Linked DNA regions of Homo sapiens. The protein of the gene in region 1 interacts with the protein of each later gene in a biochemical or structural test. Each region holds a gene or a part of one and is shown in the gene's direction. Other genes may lie near its edges.

Region 1 (3,971 bases):
TAAAAGAAAATATATTTGTAAAGTCGAAGACAAATAAGTTTTCAATTCCAGGATTATCACACTCTTAAATTGAAAAATTTGCCTAAAAATGCATTTAGCGTAAATAATTTGGTTCTTGAAAGAGGTTGGAATAAGATAATTATGATAAACATGAAGCAAAAAATATATTCTCTCTCTTCCTGTTTTTATTCTAATATCACCCTTTTTGGTGAGAAGTAGGATTATTTTCTATCTTTTCTTTCTTTTATAGGGATGGATCTCAGCAAACGGGAATATTTTGTGCTTTGTTAAATCTCTTAGAAAGTGCGGAAACAGAAGAGGTAGTGGATATTTTTCAAGTGGTAAAAGCTCTACGCAAAGCTAGGCCAGGCATGGTTTCCACATTCGTAAGTATCCTTCACCATTGCTTTTAACATGCTCGGAATTTTTTTTTTCTTTTTGACGGTTTCCTTTTTTCTTTTCTCCTCTCCTTTCCTCTCGTTTGTTCTTTTTTCCCCTTTCCTTTTCTCTTCTCTATTTTCTTTCCTATTCTTTTAGCTTTTCTACTTTTACATGATAATTCACATTAAATTATTATAAGTCTAAATAAGAGCCTAAAGTTTACTAGCACTTTGTTGTGACAGTTCATGAAGAGCCTTTCCCTAAATGCTCATGAATTTCTTAATTTTCTTTCCTTCACTCCTGTATCGATTTGTGTTGTGTAACAAACCACCCCCAAATTTGGGAGCCTAAACAAATAACATTTATTATGGTTCAGTAGTCTAATGATATGCTGGAATGTTCTGCTGGTGCCCTCAGGCTCAGGCAATAGAGACCAGGCTGACTCATGTGTCTGCCTTCAGCTGATGTGTGCCCTACAGTTTGGCTGGTCTAAAGTGACCTACACTGCCAGTAGGCTGGCATGTGGCTGCCATTTAGCTATGGCAACAACAGTGAGTGGGCCACATGTCCCTCCTCATCCAGAAGACTAGCCCAGGCCTATTCACATTAAAGCAGCAAGTTCCACAAGGGAAAGAAGACTTGTGTGAGACCACTTGAGGCCCAGGCTTAAAAGTGACACACATGTCTTCTTCTGTATGTTATTAGCCAAATAAATAAGTCATAAAGCCTGCCCAGATTCAAGGGGTAGGGAAATAGACTCCACTTCTTGAGAGGGCCTGCAAATTCACATTGCAAAGAAATGTGGATACAGGAAGGAAAATAAGTTTTATATTCTTGTAATCGATCTATCGTGTATACCCTCTATGTGGTAGTAACTGTAGATGGTCATCTGGGAATTAATCCTTATTCACAGTGTAAACTTAATTACTCACTAAAATATATAAAGCTTTTAATCATGTATGATATTGAGATTTCATATCTTGGTACTTAAAAATGTATCAAATGCTTGCTATGTGCTCTTGCTATAAAGAGCTAATTGGTATGAGGGAAAGCCAGGTATTTACTAATCAATGTAGTGAGTAAAATGACAGAAAAATTATAAGAAGAACATGAATGAGGGCATTTAATTTAAACTTTAGGAATCAAGAAACGCTTCTCGAAGCAGTGATTCCTGCCCTGATTCTTAAATAATGTGTAGGCATTAGACAGGAGGATAAGTACAAAACGTGGCATCATGAGCAAAGGCATGGAAATGGCCCATGAGCGGAGTGAACACTGGTTTGGGGTTGCTCCAAGGTAAAGTTCAAAAAGTATCCTGCAGTCAACCCTTTAGCACCATAAAGAAACTAAATTATTTAGATGTTTTTATGAGAACATATCAAAAAGTACTTTTCTGTCATCCAATACTTCCACAAATAAATCATTAGTTCTTGCTAATCTTCATCTGGCATAAAAATAATGACATCAACTTTCTTCATGTAATTTCCCACTTAATTCCTTTACTAGGAGCAATATCAATTCCTATATGACGTCATTGCCAGCACCTACCCTGCTCAGAATGGACAAGTAAAGAAAAACAACCATCAAGAAGATAAAATTGAATTTGATAATGAAGTGGACAAAGTAAAGCAGGATGCTAATTGTGTTAATCCACTTGGTGCCCCAGAAAAGCTCCCTGAAGCAAAGGAACAGGCTGAAGGTTCTGAACCCACGAGTGGCACTGAGGGGCCAGAACATTCTGTCAATGGTCCTGCAAGTCCAGCTTTAAATCAAGGTTCATAGGAAAAGACATAAATGAGGAAACTCCAAACCTCCTGTTAGCTGTTATTTCTATTTTTGTAGAAGTAGGAAGTGAAAATAGGTATACAGTGGATTAATTAAATGCAGCGAACCAATATTTGTAGAAGGGTTATATTTTACTACTGTGGAAAAATATTTAAGATAGTTTTGCCAGAACAGTTTGTACAGACGTATGCTTATTTTAAAATTTTATCTCTTATTCAGTAAAAAACAACTTCTTTGTAATCGTTATGTGTGTATATGTATGTGTGTATGGGTGTGTGTTTGTGTGAGAGACAGAGAAAGAGAGAGAATTCTTTCAAGTGAATCTAAAAGCTTTTGCTTTTCCTTTGTTTTTATGAAGAAAAAATACATTTTATATTAGAAGTGTTAACTTAGCTTGAAGGATCTGTTTTTAAAAATCATAAACTGTGTGCAGACTCAATAAAATCATGTACATTTCTGAAATGACCTCAAGATGTCCTCCTTGTTCTACTCATATATATCTATCTTATATAGTTTACTATTTTACTTCTAGAGATAGTACATAAAGGTGGTATGTGTGTGTATGCTACTACAAAAAAGTTGTTAACTAAATTAACATTGGGAAATCTTATATTCCATATATTAGCATTTAGTCCAATGTCTTTTTAAGCTTATTTAATTAAAAAATTTCCAGTGAGCTTATCATGCTGTCTTTACATGGGGTTTTCAATTTTGCATGCTCGATTATTCCCTGTACAATATTTAAAATTTATTGCTTGATACTTTTGACAACAAATTAGGTTTTGTACAATTGAACTTAAATAAATGTCATTAAAATAAATAAATGCAATATGTATTAATATTCATTGTATAAAAATAGAAGAATACAAACATATTTGTTAAATATTTACATATGAAATTTAATATAGCTATTTTTATGGAATTTTTCATTGATATGAAAAATATGATATTGCATATGCATAGTTCCCATGTTAAATCCCATTCATAACTTTCATTAAAGCATTTACTTTGAATTTCTCCAATGCTTAGAATGTTTTTACCAGGAATGGATGTCGCTAATCATAATAAAATTCAACCATTATTTTTTTCTTGTTTATAATACATTGTGTTATATGTTCAAATATGAAATGTGTATGCACCTATTGAAATATGTTTAATGCATTTATTAACATTTGCAGGACACTTTTACAGGCCCCAATTATCCAATAGTCTAATAATTGTTTAAGATCTAGAAAAAAAAAATCAAGAATAGTGGTATTTTTCATGAAGTAATAAAAACTCGTTTTGGTGAATTCTGTAATAGCTTATCATGAAGGTCAAACACAACCTTTAGATTGGTTTGGTTTTCTATATCTTTACTCTTTTGTCTGATTTTATATGTCTTAACTATACAGCACCGATTATTGTCCATTCAACTCACATTTATTTTGTGTCCCTACTTCTAATTATTTCACTATTGTAACATATAAAATTAACAATTAACCCTTATAGTAGTATATAGATCCTTGTGCTTATTTAACAGATGAAAAGAAGTAAATTTTACAATGAAGCCACAGTTTCTAATTTATATTAAGGTTACTTATTACATCTTTACTTATTAATGAGAAAAGGGGATTAGAATCACCAATTATGGGCACAAAAAATAAAGTTTGCTTTCACTTACCTCTTCAGTCACTCAAACTATTATGCATTCTTTTCTTTTATTGAAACTTGATCAGTTGCCATTTTCTAGATAATGTAGTTAAAATTTGCAGTTCTCATGTTCAATAGAACATTATGATGTATGCCTACTTTATCTGTTAATT
Region 2 (7,034 bases), on another chromosome or scaffold:
CCCCCAGCACATGCTGGCTGGTCACCTTTGTTCTGTTGCTCTATTAAATCCTATCTGGAGGCGTTGCTCACTGCTCACCTTGCTCAGAGAGTCCAGCTTTAGAGAGCGGCCTCTGGAGTAATGCTTGAGTTTAATGTGGAGGCTGATTATTCTCTACCTGATTAAATCTGTCTGGGGAGCATCTTTACCATGGCCAGAAGCTAACACATTTTTTTTTTCCCCTGGCTGAAAGCTTTGACACAGAACTCAGCCAAAAGAACGATTTTTTTTTAAAATGCCTGAAGTTTTGCTTGCTGCCTCCAAGGACCAAAAAAGGAGGAAAAGAAGGTCCTGAGCCCCAGGAGATCAGATTTGCTGGGAGGTCTGATTTGCTTGAGGGCAATCATGTCGTTGACTGCAGGCTGGTGGAAGGTTCTGCAGATACTCAGTGGATGTCAGAGCCGCAGCGCCACATCCATGGCCTCCCCGATGTTAATGGGAAGAGGTACACACTCCATTCCTGCTCTTCATCACAGGTAGCCCTGTTTGAATCTAAGCAGATGAATTTGAACTGCTTAATGTACTCACTGGCTTTAAGATGAGAGTAGCTACAAGATCCCCTTTCACCTCCTCTGAGAGCTCCCCAGATTGATACCACACTGCTGTGCTGTGGCATGGAGCCTAAGGCAGTACAAAGTGGCGTGACTAAAAATCTCACTCCCTTGCCGAGTTTCTGTGCTTCACCTGTGCGAGCACACGCAGCCATTCCCATCCTCACCCCTTGCCCATGAGCCTCAGGCCAGTGCTCTGGACATTTGATGGAATCACTTCAGACTGAAAATGCCTGGGGAAGGTGATCCTACTGTAGCATCATTCTACCTGCAGAGAGGTGTCTCCCCATCTTTTTGAGAGCAAGCCAGGCACGTGTTTAGAGCATGCCTTCATCCCTCATCAGACCTCCTAACCTCCCAATGTTAAGATGTTAACATTTCTAATGTCATGATTTGAACTTGAAAGAGAGGGGTGCTTACAATAGGGAAGCAGTACTGTGCAGCTCATATTGACCTCAGACCTCCTAAAAAGCTTCCCTTCCCAGATGATCTGCAGCTAACATGTTCTGCTTAATTAGGCTGAGGCTGGATTCCTTTTCCATCCATCCAAGTTAAGGACACTAACCAAGCAAAATGCCCCCTACCAAGAGAGACTTCTCATGGCCAGGATTCCACATTCTTAATTCACAAATAAGGCAAGAGACAACTGTGGGTTCATCTCATGGCTGACTCGAACTGGAACCTTCTGACCTTCACAGGGGGACTATGTTGGAGTTCAGAGTAAAGGAATAGGTTGGAGAAATCGGGTGGCAGGATGATTAGGTGACAGTTATACACTTCAGACCACAGTGAGTCTCTAACTGCAAGCTGTTGAAATGGTCAACATATTTACTTTTCTTTTTTATTTACAGGGAAGGAGATTGGTGGGAAGCCCGCTCCTTGACAACTGGAGAGACAGGTTACATTCCCAGCAATTATGTGGCTCCAGTTGACTCTATCCAGGCAGAAGAGTATGTTTCATTTTGTTTTCACTTAACTACTTGATTTTAAAAGTTGATTGCCGCAATAAAATGCCATCAGCATTGGGCAGGAGGGAGAAGAAATTCACAGCAGTGATTAAGGCTGAGTTTTTCAGGCTTTCTGCCCCGGTTTTTACCCTGTGTAATACTTGCACTATTATTAACTTAATGTTTCTCTTGAAGCCTGCTCACTTATTTTGAAAGAAAACTTTCTATCAATACCCTAAATGAAAAGCCAGTAAAACTTGTCATAGATTAAAAGTAGCCATAAAAATATGAAATGCTAGCTAGAGCATATATTATTGCCAACCCAAGTTTCTAAGCCCGCAGTCCACTCCCTCTGTTGGGAAGAGAGGGGAGAGTAGCAAGTAATTGCCACAGATTAAACTAAGATTTTTCTCCTAAGTGTGATCAGAAATATTAAAAGAGTGCTGAAAAGACACCTTCTATGCCCGGTAAAAGTGACTCACATACAGTGTGTCCCCCCAACTTGGGAAATACTACAGTGATTTGGAACCTCAGTTGGCTTCTTTGGTAGTAAACAGTGACGAGCAGTTATTTGGCCCAACTATTCAACTGGTAGCAGTTTAGGAAGGTGTTCAGTAGGCTGAAGGGATCTAAAAGGGATAACCTTTCTCCCTTCTTCTGACCCATGAGGATTAACAGGCACTCCCAAGGGGAAGAACTGCCAGTGGCTGTTTGCCAGCCCTGAGGGAAGGAGAGATGGAGCCATGATTTCCCAAATGCAGGAACTTGGCCTCCTCCTGACACCTTGGGTCTTGCCTCTCTAAAAAGGAAGTTGAGAAAAGTCAGTCACCAAGCCCAACCTTTGGCTCTGCTATTTAATTTCACCATGGATTTGTTTAAGTAGTGCAAGAGGGATTAGACTCCACACCCTAGCCAAATCCCCAGTTGGATTGTTCTATTCTTTAATTCCTTTGTATTTCCTCTAAGAGGATCTGTTTTGTTTCCCACTCTCAAATACTCAGTGGTTCTTAGTTGTTTCTTTCTCCTAGTGACTGTGTTTCGTCATCAGTGAATCAAGGTATTTGTATTTAATTTGTATTTTAGGGCAGATTTGCAAACATCTTTGTGTTCTTTCAGAATAAAAAGTACCACCAAAATGTAGCATTACCCTGATTTAACTGGGAATTTGTCAGCTATATATTTAAGTTATTTTTATAATGGTCAACTTTTTAAATATTTTGTTTTTAAAGAATATTATTTTTTAAAATAATGCCTTCGGTTTTACATATGCAATTAACTATCATTATCTTAAAATACTATTGTTTTGGTGCAATCCATTGTTCTAACAATTCCTTTTTCACCACTGTTTTACACGGCATTCTAATTGGGTTATTGGTACAAACCCAGAAAGCCATTTCTCACAAATAATTGACGTACTAGTCTTTACGCCACCTAATGCTAGATTAAGAATTGTTGCACATTTTGGTGTTTCTAAAAGTCACTGAGGAGCTAATACGCAATGTCTCTTTTCTTCAGTGAAACTTAATTCACAAAAGAATTTGACAGTGAACTCATGATACCTATATTCAAGCATAATGAATTGAAATTTCATTTTAGAATCTGGATTCTTTCACAGTTAAATATTCTAAAAATGGTTCCCACACACAGATTCCAATTGAATGCTCCAGCATTCTCCCTTGGGTTTTGGGGGCACCTGCTGCTCATTCAGCACCTAGTGCTGAAATAGTAACTAATTGCCAGGCTTGGTTAAGGCTTGAAAGTGCAGGGGGAGGATATAAGGCAAATAACAAAAGTCTTGAGGTGACTTAATGTGATGCCTCCTAAAGTGGCACAGAGTATCATTAGTTTCTTCAGGGATAATATATTGAAATATCTGCAACACCAAGTCATTTTAAGGGCATGCTTTTTGACTGGGCACAGATCTCAAAGGTGTACAGTAACCAGTTCTTACAGTTGTGCCAAAGAAAAGATGTACAGGGTCCACCGTGATGGCTCCCTCCTGTAATCCCAGCACTTGGGAGGCCAGGGCGAGAGGATCACTTGAGCCCAGGAGTTTGAGACCATGCTGGGCAACATAGGGAGACAGTCTCACTCTGTCCCCAGGCTAGAGTGCAGTGGCCCTGTCTCAGCTCACTGCAACCTCCACATCCCTGGTTCAAGCAATTCTCGTGCCCCAGCCTCCCGAATAGCTGAGATTACAGGCACATGCCACCATGCCCAGCTAATTTTTGTATTTTCAGTAGAGTTGGGATTTCACCATGTTGGCCAGGGTGGCCTCGAACTCCAGACCTCAGGTGATCTGCCTGCCTCAGCCTCCCAAAGTGCTGGAATTACAATCATGAGCCACCACTCTTAGCCTCTACAAAAAAAATTTTTTTAGTTAGCAGGTGTGGTGATGTGCACCTTTAGTCCCAGGAGGCTGAGGTAGGAAGATTGCTTGAGCCTGGAGAGGTCAAGGCTGCAGTGAGCTATGATTATGCCACTGCACTCCAGCCTGGGTGACAGAGTGAGACCCTGTCTCAAGAAAAAAAAAAAAAAAAGAAGAAGAAGATGATGAACACAGATCACAATCCAGGTGCTTGGTAAATAAATGCCTTTACTTATCCAAGTCCTCACACACCTAGGGGAGGAAAACAAAATACAAGTAAGTACTCATGGGCGTTTTTCTCAGAATTCTTATAGGGAGGAAGTTATTGAAAATACTATTCCTTTATTCATATCATATCTATCTAATCTGACTTTTTTTAATGCTTGATTATCTTCATATACATTAAGACTGTGTTTTGTTATTTCCCAGCAGTTACAATAATGCTTAGATATCAAGAGATTCAAGAGTTTTGTTTTTTTGTTTATTTTTTGTTATGAGACAGAGTCTCGCTCTGTTGCCCAGGCTGGAGTGCAGTGGCGCAATCCTGGCTCACTGCAACCTCCACCTTCCAGATTCAAGCAATTCTCCTGCCTCAGCCTCCTGAGTAGCTGGGATTACAGGTGCATGCCACCACACCCAGCTAATTTTTTGTATTTTTAGTGGAGATGGGGTTTCACCATGATAGCCAGCATTGTCTCCATCTCCTGACTTCATGATCCACCCACCTTGGCCTCCCAAAGTGCTAGGATTACAGGCATGAGCCACCATGCCTGGCGTTTGTTTTTTTTGTTTTGTTTTGTTTTGAGACACGGCTTTGCTCTGTCACCCAGGCTGGAATACTATGGCACAATCTCAGCTCACTGCAGCCTGGGCCTCCCAGGTTCAAGTGATTCTCCTGCCTCAGCCTCCCGAGTACCTGGGATTACAGGTGCCCACCACCACACCAAGCTAATTTTTGTATTTTTAGTAGAGCTGGGGTTTCACCATGTTGGCCAGGCTGATCTCAAACTCCTGACCTCAGGTGATCTGCCCACCTCGGCCTCCCAAAGTGCTGGGATTACAGGTATGAGCCACCATGCCCAGACTAGAGTCTTTTAGATAAGTGTGGAAAGGGTCTCCTGCAGTAACCATTTCAAATCAAGGTCTTAGATTTCTGGTTTTTTGCATACAGGTGGCAGTTTTAACACAAACCAGTTCTGGTCATGTCTAGAGGGGAGGAAAACAACCCACAACTCAAATCTGATTTTTTTTAAAGAGTGAAAGAGATGAATTAGGGATAGAATCCAGGATAGATTGAAAAGGAACTGAATTAAGCTAGAAAAAAAATACATCCAGGGAAAGGTTAAGGACTAAATTGGAGGAGAGGGGAATTCATGGGCAAAAAAAAAGCCTATGCTGTTGCATTTTGTAAATGACTATTTCAAAATATTTTCTTTCCTTGATCTAATTTAAAGGTGGTACTTTGGAAAACTTGGCCGAAAAGATGCTGAGCGACAGCTATTGTCCTTTGGAAACCCAAGAGGTACCTTTCTTATCCGCGAGAGTGAAACCACCAAAGGTAAGATAACGAGTTGAAGAAGTTGGCTTGTCATTCAAATCTGTGGATTAGTCAGAGGGGATGAAAGGCTTATCTCTAATGTACAAGGATTTTAAAATGGCACATACCCTCCCTGCCTTGTGAGTGGAGTCCTGTTTTCAGTCTTCCCTCCAGGCTCTAAAACTGCAGACAGCACCAAAAGAACTACAGAGGCCCCAAATCAAGACCTTCCTCCTGAAACGGGCTGGATGCAGCTACACTGCTCCAGGCACACAAGATCGTAGAATTTTCAGAAGTCCTTTAGAATTTTGATTTTCTGAAATCTTAGTTCCTCAGGTGCCAGTCATACAGGTTGTTTTTGCTTTCCTTTTGTTTTTTAAATAACTGAGGACTTCACTTCTCTTCCTCCAACTGTTGGACTTTTCATTATTTAACAACTCCTTACAACCCACAAGAGGAGACAGGTCAAGGAAGAAAAGAGTAGTGGCCTCTAGCTTAATTTGCCAGATTATCCATTCCTGTAAAAAGTGTTGTAAAGCAGAAGCTTGAAGCTCACTTCTAGAGAAACAAGCCTTAGATTTCTTTTGCACATGCTGCTGCTACCTCCCAGTATGCCCCTGGGTAGAGAAGACAAGGGAAGCAAGCTCAGCCATTCATCGTGGTCCTTCTTTACCCTTGGGGGAAAGGAGTGTTGGAATTGAGTCTACGCTGTATTATGCAACAAGGGGTACCGAACAGTGTGTTTAAGAAAAATGTCCAGGAAGCTTTCAGTCTCAAGGGCAGAATCATTTTATTGCTAATATATTCTGACATTTGCAGAACATCAAGAAGCATCTTCTTCCTGTTACTGAGTGGAGATGCTGTGTGTGTGTACATGTGTGTGTGCATCCTTGGTAATTATTAATCAGAGTCAAGAAAATGAGGCCTAAAAAGCAAGCTGATACTCTAAATGATTGGAGCTGCTAATGCTTTCCACGTTTACCAGGTGCCTATTCACTTTCTATCCGTGATTGGGATGATATGAAAGGAGACCATGTCAAACATTATAAAATTCGCAAACTTGACAATGGTGGATACTACATTACCACCCGGGCCCAGTTTGAAACACTTCAGCAGCTTGTACAACATTACTCAGGTAACCTTAATTCTAACTACCTACTAACCATTTGGATGCTGGAGGGAGTGGATAGGCCCAGAGCAGGAAAGTGGAAAGGGGTAAAACTAATATGTACAAAATCACTTATAGAGTATGTTTTCTTTGCCAGCCCTTAATGGTAGGGCTTGGCTGTATAGGTTCTATTGCTATTGTTCTACTGTTGTTATTATTAGTTCCACATGTTTGTCCGAAGATTCTATAATATTTTTGTTTCCCAAGTAGAAAGCAATAGGTTAAATTTTAAAAGTTGTTTGTTTTTTCATCTTCAAGTTGTCTTTTCCCATTCCCCGCGTTGCATGTGAGAAAGCAGTCTCTCGGAGGGCGCTTACATGGGGACTCCTACAAGGAATATTGTGTTTCCACTATCACTTTACCCTCAGCACTGTTGCAGGAATAGCTGCACGTACATTTCATTCTCATGCAAGCCATTTATCAT
Region 3 (7,034 bases), on another chromosome or scaffold:
AAGACGGTTCACACCTTGCTGCTGTTCCAGCAAGAGCTATGGCCAACCCAACTTGCTCAGAGGAAGGCTGTGGGCAAAACAGGAATTTTCTTTTTCTTTTTTTTTTAGAGTCAAGGTCTCACTCTGTTGCCCAGGCTGGAGCGCAGTGACGTGATCCTAGCTCACTGCAGCCTCAAACTCCTGGGCTCAAGCGATCCTCCTGTCTCAGCCTCCTGAGTAGTTGGGACTACAATCACACACCACCATGCCTGGCTAATTGTTTTCATCTTTGTAGAGTTGGAGTCTCGCTATGTTGCCCAGAATGGTCTGGAACTCCCAGGGCAGAAATTTTTAGCCTTGGCCCATCTGGTGTTCAGTTCTCCCTTCTTTATTTTATTTTTTTAATTTTTTTGAGGGTGGAGGATTTTAGCAAAAAACAGAAAGCCTGCTAGACAAATTCTAAAAGAGCTGTAACACTAGTTCTCCCTCCTTCATCTCACATGCACAACCGCCTCCTTTGTGCTGGGAGCCAGAGATACAGCAACAAATCCAACATGGTCCTTTCCTTGAGGAACTCATGGTTTAGGGGGAAAATTGACAGAGAAATGAGTCACGGTAATTCACTAGGTTCACTGCTATGGTAGAGATCCGGAGGCAGCCTGTGGACTATGGGAAGGCAGAGGAGGTGCTGGAAGAGCTTGCTCTGGAAGAGTGACTCCCCAGTTTTCTTCAGCTGTAGGACCCTCTCTTCCACATTGAAATCTCACTTGGATCAATATCTGTAGCTGATTAAAGAGTGGTGGCCATGTGGTTGCAATGGAGGGTAGGAAGCCCAGAGTCATTCCTCACAAAACCTCCTCCTCCTGTCCATGGGCTCTGGGACACCCTCTGGACTGCCCAGGATGCAGTGTGAGGACCACTGGTCCAGAAGGAAAGGGGTGGCAGCAAAGAGGTTTAGAGGTGACTGCTGCAGGCTTGGAATCCCGGCCTGGGAGATCCAGGAAGGGCTTTTGCGTAACCAGCATGGAGGTGACTTGATGAGCAGGTGGGGAAAGAGACCTCAGGCCCTAGTTTGGGGGAGTCTCTCATCTCCTCCTTTCCTGGACACAGGACAGAGGTGTTCCGGGAGGAGCTGGGGGCCCGGCCAGATGCCACCAAAGTGCTTATCATCATCACGGATGGGGAGGCCACTGACAGTGGCAACATCGATGCGGCCAAAGACATCATCCGCTACATCATCGGGGTAGGGCCCCTGCTGCTTCCTGCATCATATCTTCCCTCTCCTCTTTCTGAACCCCAAGCCCCTTTCTCCCTGGGGCCAGACTCTTGTGAAAATAATAGCAAACTGGACTGAGGTTTGGGGGATTTCAGCTCTTCACTCTCCACTCCCTCACAGATTGGAAAGCATTTTCAGACCAAGGAGAGTCAGGAGACCCTCCACAAATTTGCATCAAAACCCGCGAGCGAGTTTGTGAAAATTCTGGACACATTTGAGAAGCTGAAAGATCTATTCACTGAGCTGCAGAAGAAGATCTATGTCATTGAGGGTGAGTGGCAGGCCCTGGGAGAGGGCTCGGGAGTCTGCATAAAGAAATTCCCCTGGGACATCAGGCCGGGCTTGGTGGCTCACACCTGTAATCCCAGCACTTTGGGAGGCCGAGGCAGGTGGATCAATTGAGCTCAGGAGTTTGAGACCAGCCTGGGCAACATGGCAAAACCCCATCTATACTAAAAATACAAAAAATAGCCAGGTGTGGTGGTGGGTGCCTGTAATCCCACTACTCAGGAGGCTGAGGCGCAAGAATCGCTTGAACTCAGGAGGCAGAGGTTGCAGTGAGCCAAGATCGCACCACACTGCACTCCAGCCTGGGTGGCAGAGGAAGACTCCATTTCAAAAAATAAAAAACAAAAAACAAAAATGGCCGGACGCGGTGGCTCACACCTGTAATCCCAGCACTTTGGGAGGCTGAGGTGGGCAGATCACCTGAGGTCAGGAGTTCGAGACCAGCCTGGCCAACATGGCGAAACCCCGTCTCTACTAAAAATACAAAAATTAGCTGGGCTTGGTGGTGCATGCCTGTAATCCCAGCTACTCAGGGGGCTGAGGCAGGAGAATCGCTTGAACCCAGGAGGCGGAGGTTGTAGTGAGCTGAGATGTGCCATTGCACTCCAGCCTGGGCAACACAGCAAGACTCAGTCTCAAACAAAACAAAACAAAACAAAAAAACAAAAAAAAACCTCCCCTGGGACATCCTATTAGAAACACAAAGAATAATAAGCACTTACTGAATATCTGATCTTGTGCCAAGGGCTTGCCTAAATAAAACAGACCTTTAGAAGGAATTTAGGAGAGGGCCATTTGAGAGCAGCCTCTGTGATCTTTCTTTCTCTTCCTTCTTTCTCTCCTTCCTTCCTTCCTCCCTTCCTTCCCTTTCCCTCTCCTCCCCTCCCCTCTCCTCCCCTCTCCTCCCCCCTTCCTCTCCCCTCCTCTTCTCTTCTTTTCTCTTCTCTCTTTTCTTTTTTTTTTTGAGACAGAGTCTTGCTCTGTTGCCCAGGCTGGAGTGCAGTGGCGCAGTCTCTGCTCACTGCAAGCTCCACTTCCCAGGCTCACGCCATTCTCCTGCCTCAGCCTCCCGAGCAGCTGGGACTACAGGCGCCAGCCACCACGCCTGGCTAATTTTTGTATTTTTAGTAGAGACAGGGTTTCATCGTGTTAGCCAGGATGATCTCGATCTGACCTCGTGACCTGCCCGCCTTGGCCTCCCAAAGTGCTGGGATTACAGGCGTGAGCCACTGCGCCCAGCCTCTTTTCTTTTTTGCTTTTCTTTCACAGGGTCTCACTCTGTCACCCAGGCTGGGGTACAGTGGCATGATCACAGCTCACTGCAGCCTTGACCTTCCAGGCTCAGGTGATCCTCCCACGTAGCTGGGACTACAGGTGTGTGATACCACACCTGGCTAATTTTTTTTTTTTTTTTTGTATTTTTTGTATTTTTTGTAGAGGCAGGGATCTCGCTATGTTGCCTGGGCTGGTCTCGAATTCCTGGCCCCAAGCAATCTGCCCACCTCGGCCTCCTAAAGTGCTAGGATTACAGGCGTGAGCCACTGCACCCGGCCCTCTCTGATATTTCTTTCTGAAATTCCATCTTCTCTTGGAGCTCAGGTTGATCTAGGACTGACCTATGTCTTGCTGGTGTGATCTGAGCCCCGCAGAGTGAATGTAATTCCTCCCCCTTCTTGCTCAACTGTCTTGCTGTCACTTATCCAAGGCTCCACATTACTTCAGAAGGGCAGGCTGGCAGGGGCCAGTGTGAAGAACCCACAAGTCTTCTTTCCTGGCCTAGAATAAGAGAAGATTTATATTGTGGTCACCAGATGGAGGACTGGTTATGGAGGGCATTTCCCCAGGAAGCTTACTTGACTGAAAGATATGTGATTCCTACAGGAAAGTCTCCTTTGCTAGGACACAGCCTTGGTGTTCGGTTCAGTTAAAGAAGCAATGGGCTGAGCGTGGTGGCTCACGCTTGTCATCCCAACACTCTGGGAGGCTGAGGCAGGCGGATCACTTGAGGTCACCCAGCTACTTGGGAGGCTAAAGTAGGAGAATCGCTTGAACCCAGGAGGCAGAGGTTGCAGTGAGCTGAGATTGTGACACTGTACTCCAGCCTGGGTGACAAGAGCAAAACTGTCTCAAAAAAAAAAAAAAAATCAGCAGCAATGGTCCAGCCTGGGCAGCATAGCAAGAAGCCATGTCTAAATAATTAATAAAAATGAAAAGTGATTTTTTAAAAAAAAGTTTTTAAAAAAAACTCACTCTCAACTGGCTTTTAAGCTGAGATATGAAAGATGAGATTCAAACAGCAATGTGAGAAAGGTGGAATGAGGGCAGAGAGAAGCACAGGTGCAAGCCCAGGGGCGGGGAAAGGGCTCGGCATGCCAGGAAAATGGAAAAAGTTCAGTGTGACCGAAGCGCAGTGAGGAAGGGAGAGAGAAGGTTGGCAGGGAGGTAAGGGTCTTCCAGGCCCTCAGAAAGAGTTTGGATTTCAGTGTGAAGATCGATGAGAAATCATGAAGGAGTTTTTTGTTGTTGTTGTTTTGAGACAGGGACTCACTCTGTTGCCCAGACTGGAGTGCAGTAGTGCGATCACGGCTCACTGCAGCCTCAAACTCCTGGGCTCAAGCAGTCCTCCCACCTTGACCTCCTGAGTAGCTGGGACTACAGATACACACCACCACACCTGGCTAATTTTTAAATTTTTTGTAGAGACAAGAGTTTCTTAGCCAGGCGTGGTGGCGGGCGCCTGTAGTCCCAGCTACTCGGGAGGCTGAGGCAGGAGAATGGCGTGAATCCTGGAGGTGGAGTTCACAGTGAGCCAAGATTGTGCCACCGCCCTCCAGCCTGGGCGACAGAGTGAGACTCCGTCTCAAAAAAAAAAAAAAAAAAAAAAGAGTTTCTACTATATTGCCTAAGCAGGTCTTGAACTCCTGGGCTCAAGCAATCTTCCTGCTTCAGCCTCACATAGTGCTGGGATTACAGGCATGAGCCACTACGCCCGGCCGAGACAGAGTTTCTACTATATTGCCCAGCCTGATCTTTAACTCCTGGGCTCAAGCAAGTCTTCTGCCTCAGCCTCACAAAGTGTTGGGATTACAGGCGTGAGCCACTGTGCCCAGCCCATGAAGAGGTTTTTTGTTTTGTTTTGTTTTGTTTTTTGAGACAGTCTTGCTCTGTCACCAGGCTGGAGTGCAGTGGTGTGATCTTGGCTCACTGCAACCTCAGCCTCCTCGGTTCAAGCGATTCTCCTGCCTCAGCCTCCCAAGTAGCTAGTAGTACAGGCGCCTGCCACCACACCCAGATAAATTTTTTGTATTTTTAGTAGAGACGGGGTTTCACCATATTGGCCAGGCTGGTCTTGAACTCCTAACCTCAGGTAATCTGCCCGCCTTGGCCTCCCAAAGTGCTAGGATTACAGGTGTGAGCCACTGTGCCTGGCTTTTTTTTTTTTCAAGACAGAGTTTCACTGTGTCAGCCAGGCTGGAGAGCAGTGGTGCGATCTTGGCTCACTGCAACCTCCAGTTGTTTTTGAGCCTCCCAGCCTCGAGCAATTCTCCTGCCTCAGCCTCCCAAGTAGCTGGGATTACAGGCATGTCCCACCATGCCTAGCTAATTTTTGTACTTTTAGTAGAGATAGGGTTTCACCATGCTGGTCAGGCTGGTCTCAAACTCCTGACCTCAGGTAATCTGCTTGCCTTGGCCTCCCAAAGTGCTGGGATTACAGGCATGAGCCACCACGCACAGCCAGTGAAGAGTTCTTAAGGAGAAGCTATATAAGCCAGGCACGGTGGTGCATACCAGTAGTCCCAGCTACTTGGGATGCTGAGGCAGGAGGATCTCTTCAGCCTAGGAGTTTGAGACTGTAGTGAGCTATGATCACACCACTGCACTCCAGCCTGGGCAACACAGCAAGACCCTGTCTCAAAAAAAAAAAAAAGAAAAAGGGTGTATTTCAAAGGCAGGAGTATCATGATTTGGTGATGTGTTGGAGATGAGATGGAGTATAGAGAAGACTCCAGGTGGATTTGGTTTCTTAGCATGGTTCATTAGGTGAGTGGGGGTGCCATTCATTGAAGTGAGAAGCCTGAGTCAGAGCAGAAACCAAGAGCTGAGTCTTGGACACATGGAGATGAGTAATTGGATATTCAAATCTGGAGGCTGGGCACAGTGGCTCACACCTGTCATTGTCCCAACACATTGGGAGGCCGAGGCGGGTGGATCACCTGAGTTCGAGACCAGGCTGGCCAACATGGTGAAACCCCATCTCTACTAAAAATACAAAAATTAGCTGGGCATGGTGGTGCACCTATAATCCCAGCTACTCGGGAGGCTGAGGCAGGAGAATCGCTTGAACCCAGGAGGCAGAGGCTGTGGTGAGCTGAGATTGCACTACCGCACTCCAGCCTCGGTGACAGAGAGAGACTCCATCTCAAAAAAAAAAAAAAAAAAAAAAAAATTAGCCAGGTGTGATGGTGTGTGCCTATAGTCCCCACTATCCAGGAGGCTAAGCCCGGAGGGTTGCTTGAGCTTGGGTGGTTGAGGCTGCAGTGAGCTGTGATTGCGCCACTGCACTCCAACCTGGGCAACAGAGCAAGACCTTGTTTCAACAACAAAAAACAAACAAATCTGGGACTCCCAGGGTAAAAGCCAACTCCGCATTAAGCCACTTCCTGGGTCTGCCTGACCCTCACATGCATGCCTTCTACCTTACCCAGAAGTAAATACCTCACTTCTTCCCCGTCCTGCCATGAATTTTTTTCACTGCATTTACTGCTGTTGGGTCTCACCTGTTCTCTGCTTTGTTCCCCAGGCACAAGCAAACAGGACCTGACTTCCTTCAACATGGAGCTGTCCTCCAGCGGCATCAGTGCTGACCTCAGCAGGGTGCGTGCTGGGCTGGAGCAATGGGCTGCAGGGAGTGCAGTTGGCTCTGGGGGGTGGGTCGGTGGGTAGCTGACCCGCTCATCTCCTTCCCTGGGCAGGGCCATGCAGTCGTGGGGGCAGTAGGAGCCAAGGACTGGGCTGGGGGCTTTCTTGACCTGAAGGCAGACCTGCAGGATGACACATTTATTGGGAATGAACCATTGACACCAGAAGTGAGAGCAGGCTATTTGGGTGAGTACTTCTCTTTTCTGCTGGGATCTTCTGGTTGTTGAGGTCAGATGGTCGCTCAGCCTGGCTTCCAAAACAATAATGAAAGCAGTTAAGCAACCAGCATGAACAAAGTCAGAGTTTAAATATGGCTATAACATTCATAATTTATTGTCTGTATTTTCTGATGCTTTGACATCTTGGGGCCGTGCTAATCCTGAAAAGACTACCTCTCCCAGGGTAGGCAAATTCCTAGAGATAGTAAACAACTTGCCTGTGAATATGCCTTGTAGCTGGTCCTAGTGGCTCATGCCTGTAATCCCAGCAGTTTGGGAGGCTGAGGCAGGTGGATCACCTGAAGTCAAGAGTTCAAGACCAGCATGGCCAACATGGTGAAACCCTGTCTCTA
Region 4 (7,034 bases), on another chromosome or scaffold:
GCATCTAGAGATCTCCCCTGGCCCCATCACAGCTAGAGCTATGCTGTCCCCTTTCAGGGACATCTTGTAATTTATCCACCCAGCCCCCAACTGATGGACATAAAGGCTGTCTCCCCATCATCTCCTGCTACTACAGACAGCACTGCAGGGACTGTCCTGCTGTGTTTTTTTAAGGCATGGGTACTCCAGAAGCAGTTGCTCAGCTGCACCCCCAAGGTTGAGTGGAAGTCCCTCGGTAAAGGAGGAGGAGAGAGTGTGAAGGGAATGGCAAGGCGGGGAGGGAGACAGGGCACAGGTGTCCTGGCAACAGCAGATGGGAAACAGGTCTGGCTAAGGTACCAGAAGCCAACAAGTCCCAGAAAGGTCAAGTGACTTTCCCAAGGTCACACAGCAAGTTGATGGCAGAGCTGGGTACAGGACTCAGAGCATCTGACACCCAGGACGATGTTCCTGCACTGTTCCATAGAGTAGCCCGACTCTTAAGTTTAAATAACCCCAGGAAGGACCCCCTCTCTGTGCCTGACCCCCGCTGGGTTGTAGAGGCCTAAGTTTGCAGTAGCTCCTCCCAGCCACTCTGGCTGTCAGCCTCTGACCTGCAGTGGGAGGGTCTCACCTTCTGGAGATGTTTTAAGGAGGGGACCCCGGCCTAGGCACTAGCTGGGAAGCCACTGAGCCATCTTGTCTGCGGCCACTGACGTCAGTGCTTGGGCACAATGCCAGCCTGTTCCCGGGACCCCAGCACAAGGGCTACTGGGAGCCGGGTTTGGGGCAGGAAGTCAGCGTGAAGCACTGGTCCTGCCACATCCCAAGCCCCTTGTCCCCTAGCTCTGTGGGGGTGGGGTGACAGCTGCTATCGCTTTGGGGTTAACTATAGTCCCTTTGGGGTTAACTATAGTCCCATTGGTTATGGGACCTCAGTGTGATGTAGCCAGGCTGGATTCCCCCTTTTGTTTGTTCATTTATTCATTCATTCAGGGGTCTCATGACCCCACCAGGGAGGAGCCGTCCAAGAGAGTTAGCAGCTCCCACTTGCAAGATGTCTGTGGCAAGGCAGGCACTGTTCTGGTGCTGAGAGCTCAACTCCAGTCCTCACAGCAGCCCCCAGAGCCAAGGAGTATCACCAGTCCATTGCACAGATGGGGAAGCTGGGTTCTAGAGTCACAGCCAGCAGAGTAAAGGTGATGAGTTTAGCCCTCTTCCCTGTTTCCAGACCCTCTGAGGCCTTCAGAGCCCAGCTCCTTGAGGCAGCCCACCCCGACCGCTCCTAGGCTTACCCTTCCCTGAGCACCGCCCCTGTGCCCCTCATAGCTGCTTCTGCCTCCTCCCTCCTCCCTCCTCTCCCTTGCCCCTAGGCTAGTGTGGTCCCCATGGCAACTCCTGGGGCCTGTCCGGCAGGGAGGCACGGGGCTATGGGGAGGGCTGGCTCAGCAGCTCAGGAGTTTGACACCTGAGGGGGACAGAATGCTCACTCAAGGTGTGGCCCTAGGGACCCCCGCCTTGCCCCTGTGGGCCTCACTTGGGGTTCTCATCTGCAAAATGGGGATAATAATAGCTTCTCTGTCTCAGAGTTGTTAGAGGATGTGATGAGCCATAACGTGCCAAGGACAGGGCCTGGCACAGAATAAGTGCTCAGAAAACAGGGCCTGTTATTATTTTTATTATTATAATCAAGGCAGTGGGGAGGCGGCGGTGGCAGTAGCTGTAGGCCAGGAAGGGAGTGTTTGCAAACTGACAGCTGGAAGGGTGACTAACAGCGCAGCAGCCTCCGCGCCCCCCTGTGGTGGCAGGGAGTTTGGGGAGGAAGGGGGAGGCATGGGGATGTGGAATGCTAGCAGGGCCCCTATTCAGAAGGACCTAAAGGTTGGGGGCCCAGCCAGCCCTAGTGGGACCCTAATTCAAGCTCTGTCACCCCTAACTAGCTATGTGACTTCAGGCAAATTGTTCAACCAGTTGAGCCTCAGTTTCCGCTTCTGTGAAATGGGGGTAAGAGGGTTAGAAGAGCTCACAATCCTCCTTCCCTCCCCGCCACCCCCACCCCCACAGCTTACAGTCCACAGGAGGCAGGGGCAAGGGGTCCTCACCACCCCCACCCTCACAGCTTACAGTCCACAGGAGGCAGGGGCAAGGGGTCCCCGCCACCCCCACCCTCACAGCTTACAGTCCACAGGAGGCAGGGGCAAGGGGTCCCCGCCACCCCCACCCCCACAGCTTACAGTCCACAGGAGGCAGGGGTAAGGGGTCCCCGCCACCCCCACCCCCACAGCTTACAGTCCACAGGAGGCAGGGGCAAGGGGTCCCCGCCACCCCCACCCTCACAGCTTACAGTCCACAGGAGGCAGGGGCAAGGGATGGTTCCTGTACTTAGTGGTGACTGAGTCATGTGGATGGAGGCAGGTTTCAGGCTCATCCTCCTTGGGCCTCAGTGTCCCTGCCTAAACAGCAGGATTGATGGCCTGGCCTCTGGGGATAGAAAGGGCCCTGTATTCTGGGAGGAACGGAAGCTCTTTCATCCAGGGGATGGGGCAGGGGCGCACCAGACATTTCCAAGTTCAGGGTTTCATTCCAGCCCCTCCTCAGCCAGCTTGCAGGAGATACCTGTCCTCCCCTTCAGGGTAAGCAAGACTTAGAAGGGTTGAGTCACTCACCCCAAGTCGCACAGTCAACAGAGCCAGGTATTAAGCCCAGGCCTGACTATAGAGCCAGGTGTGCGGCCTGGAAGTGTTGGTTCTCCCTGGCCGTCTCCTCCCCAGCTCCTTCTGCTCTCCATGATCACATGCCCCCCTGCTGAGGCCCCATCGCCCTTGGAGTCAAACCCTGGTTCCTCACATTGGCAGTGGAAGTCCCCCTGCTGCCTGGCAGAGTTTATGCCAGGCCCACTTGAAACCATCCCCTACAGTGTCCCCTGAGCAGCGGTGCTCAAGGTGGACTCTGGAAGTGTGTGGGGTCCTAGAGCCCCAGATGGGCAGGGTCTGCCTTCCCGCTTCCCTCACCATCGGCTTCCACCTGGGCCAGTTTCTCATACTATGCCAGTCCCCTGCCTGACACCTTTGCTCAGACTGCTGCATCAACCTGGGGTGCCTTCCCTGGCCCGCCCTCTGCCTGTGTAAGCCCTGCAATCTTCAGGGCTCAGCCCCAGAGCTCCCTCCTCCAGGGAGCCTGTCTGAGCTCTGCAGTCCGTGCCTACTTCACACCCCCAGCACTTTGCACTAAAATGTCTTCTCCCGCGCCACTGCACTCCAGCCTGGGCAACAGAGCAAGACTCCGTCGCAATAATAACAATAATAATAAAATAAAATGTCTCCTTCCACTGGGGTAGGTAGCAATATTTGTGACTGTCAGCCTAGCCCCCAGACCTCATCCACTGTATCAAAGAGCCCAGCAAAGAGGCTCATGGAGGAGTTTCTCTTCTAACACACTGTGACCACGAAGATGCCACTGGCCCTTTCTCACCCTCAGTTTCCTCACCCGTAGAAAGGAAACAGTAGTTCCAGCCCCTCTGCTTCCTGAGACAGGTCCAAGGGGGCTCTGGGCTGGGATTACAAAGTATGTGTGTGCAGACGGGTGGGTTGCTGCTCTCAGGGAATGGGGTTGGCTAGGGTAGCTTTTTTGGGGAGTCAACTTTATTGAAGTAAATATACGGTTGACCCTTGAACAACACAGGGGTTGAGGGCATCAACCTCCTCCCTGCAGTCAAAAAATCATATATTAACTTTTGACTCCTCAAAAACTTAACTACTAATAGCCTATTGTTGTCAGAAAGCCTTGTAGATAAAGTTGATTGACACTCATTTTGTTTGTTATATATATTATATACTGTATTCTTACAATAAAGTAAGCTAGTGAAAATAAAATAAGAAAATCATATGGCCGGGTGCAGTGGCTCACACCTGTAATCTCAGCACATTGGGAGGCTGGGGCAGGCGGATCACTTGAGGCCAGGAGTTCAAGACCAGCATGGCCAATATGGTGAAACCCTGTATCTACTAAAAATACAAAAATTGGTCTGCTGTGTTGGCGCACGCCTATGATCCCAGCTACTCAGGTGGTCAAGGCATGAGAATCACTTGAACCTGGGAGGCGGAGGTAGTTGCAGTAAGCCGTGAGTCACCCCACCACTGCGTTCCAGCCTGGGCGACAGAGTCTTGCTGTCTCAAAAAAAAAAAGAAAGAAAATCATAAGGAAGAGGAAATATATCTACTATTCTTTAAGTCGAAGGGGATCATTATGAAGGTCTTCATCCTTCACATTGAGTAGGCTGAGGAGGAAGAGGAAGAGTTGGTCTTGCCGTCACAGAGGTGGCAGAGGTGGAGGCGGAGGAGGTGGAAAGGAAGGCAGAAAAGGCAGGCACACTCAGTGTAACTTACTGAAAAACATCCAGCCACGTGTGGTGGCGCATGCCTGTGGTAATCGCTACTTAGGAGGCTGAGGCAGGAGGATTGGCTGAACCCAGGGGTTTGAGGCTGCTGTGAGCTATGATCACGTCACTGCACTCCTGCCTGGGCAACAGAGTGAGACCCTTTCTCAAAAAAAAAAAAAAAAGAAAAGAAAAAGAAAAAATCCATGTGTAACTGGACCTGCGCAGTTCAGACCCGAGTTGTTCAAGTGTGCACTATACACCAAAAAGTGTGCCGATCGCAATGGTACAGCTCAGTGAATTGTCACAGAGTGGACCCACTTCATGATTGGGCTCAGACAGTCTGAAAACCAACCCCAGAGGTCCCCTTGCATTCCTTCCAGTCTCCCTGTCCCAAGAGCAGCTATCCTGACAGCATGGATTAGTTTGGCCAGATTTTGAACTTTATTCAAATGGAATTACATAATATGTACTTTCCTGTGTCTGGCTTCTTGGTTAACATTTTATTTATTTATTTATTTATTCATTCATTTAGAGGCAGGGTCTCACTCTGTCGCCCAGGCTGGAGTGCAGTGGTGTGACCTTGGCTCACTGTAGCCTTGACCTCCCCAGGCTCAAGCGATCCTCCCACCTCAGCCTCCTGAGTAGCTGGGAGTACAAGCACGCAGTACCACCCCCGGCTAATTTTTGTATCTTTAGTAGAGACCGGGTTTCGCCATGTTGCCGAGACTGGTCTTGAACTCCTCCTGGGTTTAAGCCATCTGTCTGCCTCAGCTTCCCAAAGTGCTGAGATTACAGGTGTGAGCCACTGTGCCTAGCCATCATTATGTTTTGAAATTTATCGGGATTGGCCAGGCACGGTGACTGGCACCTGTAATCCCAGCATTTTGGGAGGCCGAGGTGGGTGGATCACCTGAGGTCAGGAGTTCGAGACCAGCCTGGCCAACATGGTGAAACCCCATCTCTACTGAAAATACAAAAATTAGCTGGTTGTGGTGGTGCATGCCTGTAATCCCAGCTACTCAGGAGGTGGAGGTTGCAATGAGCCGAGATTGTGCTACTGCACTCCAGCCTGGGTGACAGAGCCAGACTCCATCTCAAAAAAAGAAAAGAAAAGAAATTCATCAGTGTTATTTAATGGTTGGAGTTTGTGTTGGAGTTTATTTAATGGTTGGTGTTTACTGCTGTACGTAGTCCCTTTTGTGAATATGCCACTGTTTATCCATTTTCCTCTGGATCGGCATCTGGGCAGCTCCCAGTTTGAGGTTTATTACAAAGCATGCCACTTGTAGCCCTCCTGTGCCTGTCTAGGCAGACACATGTCCTGTGTCCTCTCGGTGTGTACCTAGAAGTGGGGTTGGTATATGTTTAGAGATGCTACCTGGGCGGGATTTTGCAGGTGAAGGACCCAAGGACCCACAGAGCATAAGGGACTTTCTCAGATCACATAGCCCCTTCTCAGAGCTGCTCCGGGGCCCCTTTCCCCACAGAACAGTAGCTGGAACCAGGCCTGGGGCTGACGGTCAGGTGTCCATTGTCCCACTAGCCCCCTTTGCTCCTTTCTATCAGTCCTGGAAGGCCCCCTGTGGCCTTAGGGTTGGTGGCTCCCTCTGCCCCTGGGGGTCCTCAGCCCTCATGCTCCTCTACCCAGTACCGTCAGCCTGCCAGGACTGGAGAGAATGGCCCATGTGTCAAATCCCAGCGCAGGACACTCTTGGCACCTGTTCATGCCCAGTGAGGAGCCAGATCTCAGCAGTTGGGGGGCATTTCTTCACACCCCTCCTCAGTCTTCATGCTCTTCCCCACAGCTCTAATGGTACCAAGTGACAGGTTGGCTTTACTGTGACTCGGGGACGCCAGAGCTCCTGAGAAGATGTCAGCAATACAGGTACCACAGGGGTGAGGGTCTGGGACATGCAAGCATTCCCACCAGCCCCAGCGGGGTGCTTAGCAGAGGAGAGAGGATGCAGCTTAGATCAACCCACTCCCCTTTTTCCCAGCACTCAGTCAGGTACAGGCCTGGGGAAGTGGGGGAGTCTCAACAGGAAGGGACCCAGGGCTCGTTCTCCGGGCAGAGCACCTCACCCAGGCTCACAGAGGCCAGCTCAGAGGCTGTGACCACGAGGGTGCGCCAGCAGGTGGCTGGAGGGGGCCCAGGCTGCACCCGCCCACGTGTCACCTGCCTTGCAGGCCGCCTGGCCATCCGGTACAGAATGTATTGCCAAGTACAACTTCCACGGCACTGCCGAGCAGGACCTGCCCTTCTGCAAAGGAGACGTGCTCACCATTGTGGCCGTCACCAAGGTAATCAGGTGACGCCCACCCCACCATCCCACTGCTGGGCCTTCCCTCTGCAGGGGGAGGTGGGCCTGAGAGCATGTCTGGGCTGCCCTCTCCCCAGGACCCCAACTGGTACAAAGCCAAAAACAAGGTGGGCCGTGAGGGCATCATCCCAGCCAACTACGTCCAGAAGCGGGAGGGCGTGAAGGCGGGTACCAAACTCAGCCTCATGCCGTGAGTACCACGAGGAGGGGTTGGGGAGGGAAGGGGCCTTGGTCCTCCTGAAGGAGCATCAGGAGCAAGCAGGGAGGCCAGAGTGAGGGGCTTGGGTGTTGGGGAGGGCCTCAGGAGGAGGTGCAGGGTGCGGGTGCGGGACCTCACAGAGCAGGGCTGGGGGCAG

The links.
Region 2: the proteins of PTPRC (region 1) and FYN form a complex in vitro, tested with the Homo sapiens proteins (one study listed by BioGRID).
Region 3: the proteins of PTPRC (region 1) and ITGAL form a complex in vitro, tested with the Homo sapiens proteins (one study listed by BioGRID).
Region 4: of the proteins of PTPRC (region 1) and CSK, one has a biochemical effect on the other in vitro, tested with the Homo sapiens proteins (2 studies listed by IntAct).

The regions. Positions count from the first base shown.
Region 1 is NC_000001.11:198,754,019-198,757,989, forward strand, and holds the end of PTPRC (receptor-type tyrosine-protein phosphatase C isoform 1 precursor), read left to right. Parts: intron 1-250; coding exon 251-386; intron 387-1,887; coding exon 1,888-2,163; 3' UTR 2,164-3,458; downstream 3,459-3,971. UniProt on the Homo sapiens protein: Protein tyrosine-protein phosphatase required for T-cell activation through the antigen receptor. Acts as a positive regulator of T-cell coactivation upon binding to DPP4.
Region 2 is NC_000006.12:111,702,428-111,709,461, reverse strand, and holds part of FYN (tyrosine-protein kinase Fyn), read left to right. Parts: intron 1-405; exon of another isoform or gene 406-456; coding exon of another isoform or gene 457-515; intron 516-1,441; coding exon 1,442-1,540; intron 1,541-5,359; coding exon 5,360-5,463; intron 5,464-6,427; coding exon 6,428-6,577; intron 6,578-7,034. UniProt on the Homo sapiens protein: Non-receptor tyrosine-protein kinase that plays a role in many biological processes including regulation of cell growth and survival, cell adhesion, integrin-mediated signaling, cytoskeletal remodeling, cell motility, immune response and axon guidance.
Region 3 is NC_000016.10:30,482,738-30,489,771, forward strand, and holds part of ITGAL (integrin alpha-L isoform a precursor), read left to right. Parts: intron 1-400; exon of another isoform or gene 401-457; intron 458-1,089; coding exon 1,090-1,222; intron 1,223-1,375; coding exon 1,376-1,526; intron 1,527-6,157; exon of another isoform or gene 6,158-6,229; coding exon of another isoform or gene 6,230-6,251; intron 6,252-6,344; coding exon 6,345-6,418; intron 6,419-6,516; coding exon 6,517-6,649; intron 6,650-7,034.
Region 4 is NC_000015.10:74,792,071-74,799,104, forward strand, and holds part of CSK (tyrosine-protein kinase CSK), read left to right. Parts: intron 1-975; exon of another isoform or gene 976-1,178; intron 1,179-6,141; exon of another isoform or gene 6,142-6,162; 5' UTR 6,163-6,227; coding exon 6,228-6,242; intron 6,243-6,544; coding exon 6,545-6,658; intron 6,659-6,755; coding exon 6,756-6,868; intron 6,869-7,034. UniProt on the Homo sapiens protein: Non-receptor tyrosine-protein kinase that plays an important role in the regulation of cell growth, differentiation, migration and immune response.